3 separate regions of the Homo sapiens genome follow, and all the other regions are linked to region 3. Evidence: fine-mapped expression QTL. A gene starts in region 3. Each other region holds a variant in brackets. All regions are shown on one strand. Distances are between the middles of the regions. Region 1 overlaps ST3GAL3 (ST3 beta-galactoside alpha-2,3-sialyltransferase 3). Region 2 overlaps ST3GAL3 (ST3 beta-galactoside alpha-2,3-sialyltransferase 3). Region 3 holds the start of ATP6V0B (ATPase H+ transporting V0 subunit b).

Region 1 (2,500 bases), 76 kb after region 3:
GTAACCCGGGCAATCTCCTGACCTCTTTGCCCCCTGGTTGCCATTGGGTGATTTCGGCTTTGGGTCATTAATGTTTCCTTTGAAGGTTCTTACTCGTTCTTTGCTGCATTCAAGGGGCGGGATTGCTTAGGAGTTGCGGAAGCCCAGGGCAAGAGGGGAAGAAGCTGGTGCCAGGAGAGCTTACCACTCTCTCCTTGTAGACGATGTATTTCAACCACTTAAAGTCCTGCCACTTGAAGCCGGCGAGGACAAAGAGAGAATCGCGCTCGTACTGCTCAGGCCGCTGCATGGCGCCCTCGGGGTAGGTGATGCGCAGTGTCGTTTTGCTGCCCACGTCCTTCTCAAAGCCTTTCACTGGTGCTGAATTCAGTCTACAGAGAGCAGGCCCACTCAGAGCCTGGGCCTGTGTTTGGGAAGGCACCATGACCCCAGACTATCCCAGGCATGGAGAATAGGGAGTCCAGGTCACCTGGACCTATTCTCCCCAGGTGCCCCCGCTAGTTGTCTGTTCCAAAGCCCTCCAACCCAGAGTTCTTGAGGCTTCCGTTGACCTCCAGCCCAACTAGCCAGACAGACAGTTCTCAATGGGCTCAGGACTAAGGGTTGGGGCCACGACACTCACCCGAGGTGCCATTTTGGGGAGCTCACCTCACCACAATGTCATAGTCGTCAATTCGTGACCCCAGAGACTTGTTGGCAAGAACGCCTCCATTGCCCACGATGATGCAGCGGCGGCAGCGGAGGCTGAGGGGAGAGAGGCGGAGACCTCTGTACAGAGAGCTGCCCACCAGGTCTCTTTCCCTGCTCCTTTGGCCCTTGACCCCACGCCCTTGTCCAGGACCAGGCTGGGATAGAGGAAGAAGACCAATGGGCTTCTGGCAGCATTTCTGAGAGAAGGCCTGAACCATACAATGGGTAGCTGGGCCCTGAGACTCTCCAGCATCTCTATCTAGGCCCTGACACTTCCCCAGGAAAACAGGGCCATGGAAAGGCTTGGGTGCCAGGCGTGGGTGGTGAGGAGGGAGCTTTGGTAAGATGACATTCTAGGGTAAAGGTTCCCCAAGGGGTAGTGGTGTTTAGGCAGGCTTCAGGGGAGAGGGAAAAGTGGGCCGAGCTTGGGGCTATACCAGGAAAGCAAGAAAAGGGGAACGGGACAGGAGGCTCTAGGACTCAAGGCTCCCAGCAGCCACTAGAGAGCTTACCCATCTTGCTTCTCCCATCCCTGACCCTGGGGCTTCCTGCTCTAGGGTCTGTTGGTTTGGGAGCTGTCACTGCCTTCTGGACTTAAGCCTTGCCCCCTTCACCTGCCCCCGCCACCCAGGCCCTCAGTCCCATTGCTGGGCTAGTCCCAGCCCCAGTGTGTTCAGTTCTTACCCTCAAACCTCTGGTATCTGAGGACTGGGATGTCCTGCCAAGTGCTGACAGCCCGTGGGGG[T/C]GCAAGTCAGGTGGAGTGGTTCCACTTACCTGCTCCACCCACCCTGTGTGTGTACTGTATGTGCATGTGTGGATGTGCTGGAGAAACTGCCCATGTCCAGGGAAGGCCAGCTGGGCCTCAACACCTCTGCACACCACCAGGCAGCGGTGGGTAGGAGGCTGCACAGTGTGTGGCTCACCTGTCCAAGGCAGGGGTCAGGCGGTACTCTTTGGTGACTGACAAGATGGCTTTGATCAGATTGTCTGCAGACAGAGGAGAGAGGTTTCTGTTACAGGGTCACTTACCTTTCTATAAAATGTTTACTGATAATCCTACTGGAAGACACAAGTCCCTAGGGGCTAGAGTGAAAGTGGAAGTGGAGAGAGCTCTGGACACAAGGATGTATTGGGCCACTGCCCTGACTTTCTTCCTGAGAAAGGAGGTGATGGCAGGAAACAGACAGGCATATCACTGCCGGGAGCCCGTCCCTAACACTGGCACGCAGCTTCTCTCCCAGGCTTCTGGGAGGCTCATCTGGTTTTCTGAGGCTCTGTAGTCAGGCCCCAGGACATGCATTCCCAGGCCAGGGCCTTCCCTGGAAGCTGGCGCACGCAGTCTCCCTGGAATGGGAGTACCTGCTCAGAGCTAGAGACCACCTTGTACTTATCTCTGTGCTCCCACCCAGCAGATACCAGGAAACAAATGAGGAGACACCCAGCAACTGAAGAGCTCACCACGTGCCTCATTATCTGACATCACCTTTCCCTCACTTCCTCCCTCTCACATTGCCAATCCTGAATCCTGCTCTTTGCCAGGCTGTCTTTACCTCCTCACCTCTTTACTCCCTGAGCCTGGCTCTGCCCACCTGCACTCCATTCAGCAAAGACCCCCATGACTTCTGTGCTCTCAGACCTGTGCCCACTATTTAGACCTCATCTCCTTGGCCTCTCTCTGGCTTTGGCAATAAGGACTGCTCTTCCAAACTCTGGTATCATGAGAGCACTATAATATGATGTATAGTGAATAGCAAGGGTATTGGCTTTGGAGTCAAATACTGGCTGTGCTCTGTGACCTTATATAAATCAT
Region 2 (2,840 bases), 260 kb after region 3:
CTGTGGTTTGAACATGTCCCCCAAAAAAGCATGTGTTGGAAACTTAATCTCCAATACAACAGTGCTGGGAGGTGAAGCCTAATGAGAGGTATTTAGGTCATGAGGGCTCCACCCTCATGAACGGATTAATGCCAATTATAAAAGGGCTTGAGGCTGTGAGTTCAGTCTCTTTCTCTCTCTCCCTCACTCTCTCTTGCCCTTCCAGGTCCTGCCATGAGATGATACAGCAAGGAGGCCCTCACCACATGCCAGCCCCTTGATCTTGGACTACCCAGCCTCCAAAACTGTAAGAAATAAATCTGTTTTTTATAAATTATCCAGTCTTAGCTATTGTTATAGTAACACAAAATGGACTAGGACACCTAGAATGACATCTACTGGTTGTATGGTAATTCTATGTTTAACTGCTTGAAGAAATGACAGCGTGTTTCCCAAAGTGGCTACACATTTTACATTCCCAACAGCAGTGAATGAGCATTCCAATTTCTCCACATCACCAGCTCTAACACTTATTCTTTTTTTCTTTAAGAGACAGGGTATCACTCTGCGGTCCAGGCTGGAGTGCAGTGTCATGACCTTGGCTCAGTGCAGCTGCAACCTCCTAGGCTCAAGCGATCTTCCTGCTTCAGCTTCCTCAGCAGCTGGGACTACATGCCTAGCCAATTATTCTATTTTTTGTAAAGATGGGGTCTCACTGTGTTGCACAGGATGGTCTCTAACTCCTGGGCTCAAGTAATCCTCCCACTTCAAATCCCAAACTGGTGGGATTATAGGTGTGAGCCACTGCTTATTCTTTTTTTTTTTTTTTTTTTTTTTTTTTTTCTGAGACAGAGTCTTGCTCTGTTGCTCAGGCTGGAATGCAGTGGCATGATCTCGGCTCACTGAAACCTCCGCCTCTCAGTTTCAAGTGATTCTCCTGCCTCACCCTCCAGAGTAGCTGGGATTACAGGCATATGCCACCATACCCGGCTAATTTTTGTATTTTTAGTAGAGACGGGCTTTCGCCATGTTGGCCAGGCTGGTCTCCAACTCCTGACCTCAAGTGATCCGCCCACCTCAGCCTCCCAAGCCACCGCTTATTCTTTTTTTTTTGAGACAGAGTTTCACTTTGTTGCCCAGGCTGGAGTGCAGTGGCATGGTCTTAGCTCACTGCAACCTCAGCCTCCCAGGTTCAAGCAATTCTCGTGCCTCGGCCTCCCATGTAGCTGGGATTACAGGCACCCGCCACCACACCCGCCTGATTTGTTTTTGTATTTTAGCAGAGACGAGGTTTCAACATGTTGCCCAGGCTGGTCTCGAACTCCTGAGCTCAGGCAATCCGCTCATCTCGGCCTCCCAAAGTGCTAGTATTACAAGCATGAGCCACCGTGCCTGGCCCCA[A/G]GCCACCGCTTATTCTTATCTGCTGTTTTGATTCCAGCCACCATAGAGTGTGAGGTAGCATCTCATGGTAGTTTTGATCTACACTCCCCTGAAGGCTGATGATGTTAACCCTCTTTCTATGTGCTTATTTCTTTACTTCTTATTAGCCAATCTAGCATTACGCCAATTCTCTGTAATAGTTAAGTAATTCTTACATTAAACCTTATCTGTTCAAATTACCATGTGATTTCTCTCTTTTAATTGGATCCAGACTCCTGCAAGATGAGTAGTCAGTGACTTCCTGAGTAGAAATCAAATGATCTACAATGGTTTTAAAAACAGAGAACAGAAGAGTAAAGCTGAAAAATACTTTGTCACTGGCCAGGTACTCCCTTTAGAAGCAGGTAAGAGGCCTGGTGTGGTGGCTCACGCCTGTAATCCCAACACTTTGGGAGGCCAAGGCAGGCAGATCACCTGATGTCAGGGGTTTGAGACCAGCCTGGCCAACATGGTGAAACCTTGTCTCTACTAAAAATACAAAAATTAACCAAGCGTGGTGGTGGGCCCCTGTAATCTCAGCTACTTGGGAGGCTGAGGCAGGAGAATCATGTGAACCTGGGAGGTGGAGGTTGCAGTGAGTCAAGATCACTCCACTGCACTCCAGGCTGGGTGACAGAGTAAGATTCCATCCTAAAAAAAAAAAAAAAAAAAAAAAAAAGATGTAGCAGAAGGATAAAAACACGTATGGGAACTTTAAACACCTTTAACTCAAACAGTGGCTTTTTTCTGTTGAAGGAGGGAGAAGAAGGGAAAAACACATTAGGAAGGCTTTCAGTAAAAATGTAATGTTCTCTTTATTTAAAAAATAAAAAAAAACTCAAGCAAGATGGCATATTAAGATTTAATGATAGACAGGCGCAGTGGCTCACGCCTGTAATCCCAGCACTTTGAGAGGCCGAGGCGGGCGGATCATGAGATCGGGAGATCGAGACCATCCTGGCTAACACAGTGAAACCCCATCTCTACTAAAAATACAAAAAATTAGCTGGGCATGGTGGCGGGCGCCTATAGTCCCAGCTACTCGGGAGGCTGAGGCAGGAGAATGGCGTGAACCAGGGAGGGATAGCTTGCAGTGAGCCAAGATCGCGCCACTGCACTCCAGCCTGGGCGACAGAGCAAGACTCTGCCTCAAAAAAAAAAAAAAAAAAAAAAGATTTAATGATAGAGCCGGGCGTGGTGGTTCACGCCTCTAATCCCAACACTTTGGGAGGCCAAGGCAGGCAGATCACCTGAGGTCAAGAGTTCAAGACCAGCCTGATCAACATGGAGAAACCCTGTCTCTACTAAAAATACAAAAATTAGCCGGGTGTGGTGGCACATGCCTGTAACCCCAGCTACTCGGGAGGCTGAGGCAGGAGAATCGCTTGAACCCGGGAGGTGGAGGTTGCAGTAAGCCAAGGTCATGCCATTGCACTCTAGCC
Region 3 (2,500 bases):
GAGCAGAGCCCAAGCTGTCACTGCCCTCAGCATGCCTAAGACCCCAGTGACACCACCTGCCATGACTCAGCCCCTGCCCCCAGTCCCACCACCCCAATACTCACCAGGCTGCCCCAACCACAGACAGGGAGATAGCTAGGCCAATGCCCAGGTTGGACCACATGAAGGGCGAAGTCTCCGTCAGGAACCTGTTGTGGAAGCAGAGAAGAAAGCAGTTCAGCTCTAGCAGGGAAGCGGAGCACAAAATCTTAACCCCTCAAACCCCCTTCAACCCCACCACCAGTTCTACAGGCAACAACTGACCGCGTATTTCCCAAAGGTCCATGTCCCAGGCAGGCAGTGGTGTGGGGGAGGGACTCAGACCAGAGAAAAGAAGAGAGGCTGCAGGGAAGAAGCTTCAAGGGGAATCCTCCCCCTGCCCTCCCTTACCATGCCACATCAAAGCGGAAGCCCAAATCAAAAATGGTGTAGCAGACTCCTGCAGCAGTGAGGGAGAAAAAGGGGGTTACGGGCTGCTCGGTAGAGAGAAGTTCTTCAACCTAAAGTAGCTGCCGAGCTGAAGGGCCACCTCCCTGAAGGGGCGTCCTCAGGCTGCCCCCAGGTGACAGTACAGCTGTGTAGACAGATTCCTCTGCTTAGGCCTCCATTTTCTGCCATTCCCTCGCTAAAACCACCTCCCAGACCAAGCACCTGCGCAGGCAGGGTCGCCACCCGCAAGCCCGAATCCGAGGCGGGACCGAGGGAGCAAGCGCTCCAGCCAGATCCCGCCGGCCCAGTCCGTTCCGCTGTTTACCCAACAAGCTGTGGGTGGGGGAGGGCAAAGCGACTGGGAAAAGAGGAACCGGAGCAGCCGGCTTGTGACCGAGCGGGCCGGTCAGGAGCAAGAAAGGGGGGACAGCAGTGAGACGTGGGAGCGAGGGGAGACAGCGATAGTGGCAGGACGGGGGAGTGCTGCCCTCGCGGCCCCTACCCGCCCGCACCCCTCCTCAAGCAGCTGGAAATCCGGGTCTCCTTTGTCGGAGTCAGAGGCCCTCGCAGGCGCAAGTCCCCAGAGCCTCGGGTGCAGAGCGCGCGGGGGGCCAGTATTCCCCGCAGGCCACTTCCCCGCCGAGTTCCGACCCGGCCAGCTCGGCCGCGATGCTGCTCCCGCCCGCCAGGACCCGGCCTCACCCACGGCCAGCGCGCAGGCCCAGAAGGCCACGAAGACCCCGGAGTAGAGCAGTGCTAGCCCCGTCATGGCGGCGACGGCGGCGGGGGTCGGAACGGCGGGGCCGGAGCTACAAACGCGTCCCAGCGTCCACCGTCCGTCCCGCAGTCTGTCCGCCCGCCCCGCAGCGTCACCTAACTCGCCCACGTGATGCGCCGGTACCACGTGACCCCACGCCGGTTCCCCGCGCAGCGCCGCCGCCCGTCTAGAGCAAGGCGACGCTGGAACCGCAGGCGCTGGGGATTGTGGTAGTTGTAGTCACGCGTCTCGGCGGAGGCTTGGGCGCCCTCCTCTCTAGGAACTTCGACATCTGGCCGGTCCTTCTCGAGTCTCTCCACCTCGCCCTGCCAGCCCTGTTTTATTCCCGAGCCTGCTCGCGGGCCCCTAAGGCGTCCTCTCTGGCAGCCGTGCGTCCTAGCCTGTGGCGGGTGGCGCCGCGCGTGCCCTCTGCCTCACCTTGCTCACGGCGTCTCTCCGCCCCAGTGCGCCTGTTGGCGCTCGCTCCGCTGCCTGGCTAACACCTGCTGTCCTCCGAAATCGTCCTTCCGGCAAGCCTTCCCTAACCCAGTGGCAGGGAAGCGCGTTTGCTGGGCTCCCGCGATGTCCTGGTGATGCTTATTAAGCTTCAGTAAGATGTCACTACCCTGTCGAAATGCCCTGATGGCTCCCATTTCATTCAGGAGAAAAGCCAAAGTTCTCACAATAGCCTGCTAGGCTCCCCACGCCCCTCAGCTGACTTCACCTTCTAATATTCCCCCACTAACTCCCTCCTCTGGCTGCACTGCCCTCCTTGCTATTTCTTTGAACGTGCCAACCATACCGCGACCTCACTGCCCTTGCACTTGCTCTCTCTGCTTCTCCTAACTATACATGCGGCTCATCCTGTAACTTCCTTTCAGTTTTTGCTCACCTTCTTGAAAAGGCCTTCTCTGACCATTCTGTTTAATATTCCACCCCACTTAAACGCTCCTCTGCTTCCCAGCTTTACATTTCTCACGGTACTTACTGATCACCATTTGGCATACTAAGTATTTTATTTGTCCAACTCCCCTGGAAGAGTGGAAGCACCATGGCTTTTGTGTCGCTCACTGCTGTATTTCCAGTACCTGGCACAGAGTGTGTCCTCAGTACATATTTGTAGAACACATGACTGATGCCCACTTTGTCTGGGTTACCTTGTTAGCTTACAGCTCTGCCTCCACCATTAGACTAGGCATTCCCTGAGGGCAGGGACCACATCTCCTTTGTTCACCTTCAATACCCTCGACAATGCCACTGTGACCAGATTCTCAA

What was found. PIP is the estimated chance that this variant, and not a neighbour inherited with it, causes the effect. A credible set is the group of variants that fine-mapping cannot tell apart.
Region 1: its variant is the best candidate, but not a certain one, in a credible set for the expression of ATP6V0B in whole blood (TOPMed, PIP 0.84).
Region 2: its variant is the best candidate, but not a certain one, in a credible set for the expression of ATP6V0B in atrial appendage (GTEx, PIP 0.84).

Annotation. Positions count from the first base shown.
Region 1 is chr1:43,897,412-43,899,911 of GRCh38, reverse strand. ST3GAL3 (ST3 beta-galactoside alpha-2,3-sialyltransferase 3) reads right to left here. Exons shown (of 12, transcript NM_006279.5): 7 at 1,614-1,677; 8 at 649-744; 9 at 185-371. Among named protein-coding and RNA genes, the nearest start is that of ARTN, 35 kb to the left of the region's middle. RefSeq lists an enhancer at 1-229. The variant T/C (reference allele first, on the strand shown) is at 1,436.
Region 2 is chr1:43,717,917-43,720,756 of GRCh38, reverse strand. The region is part of intron 1 of ST3GAL3 (ST3 beta-galactoside alpha-2,3-sialyltransferase 3); the gene reads right to left. It overlaps ST3GAL3-AS1 (ST3GAL3 antisense RNA 1), which reads left to right. Exons shown (of 4, transcript NR_125986.1): 2 at 206-286; 3 at 1,631-1,763. Among named protein-coding and RNA genes, the nearest start is that of ST3GAL3-AS1, 8.0 kb to the left of the region's middle. The variant A/G (reference allele first, on the strand shown) is at 1,381.
Region 3 is chr1:43,973,778-43,976,277 of GRCh38, reverse strand. ATP6V0B (ATPase H+ transporting V0 subunit b) reads right to left here and starts at 1,318. Exons shown (of 8, transcript NM_004047.5): 1 at 1,171-1,318; 2 at 430-478; 3 at 105-188. The coding sequence starts at 1,237. LOC124904167 (a long non-coding RNA gene) reads left to right here and starts at 1,413. Exons shown (of 2, transcript XR_007066053.1): 1 at 1,413-1,835; 2 at 2,391-2,500. RefSeq lists silencers at 780-829, 1,230-1,279 and enhancers at 499-1,331, 1,530-1,579, 1,630-1,749, 1,332-2,165.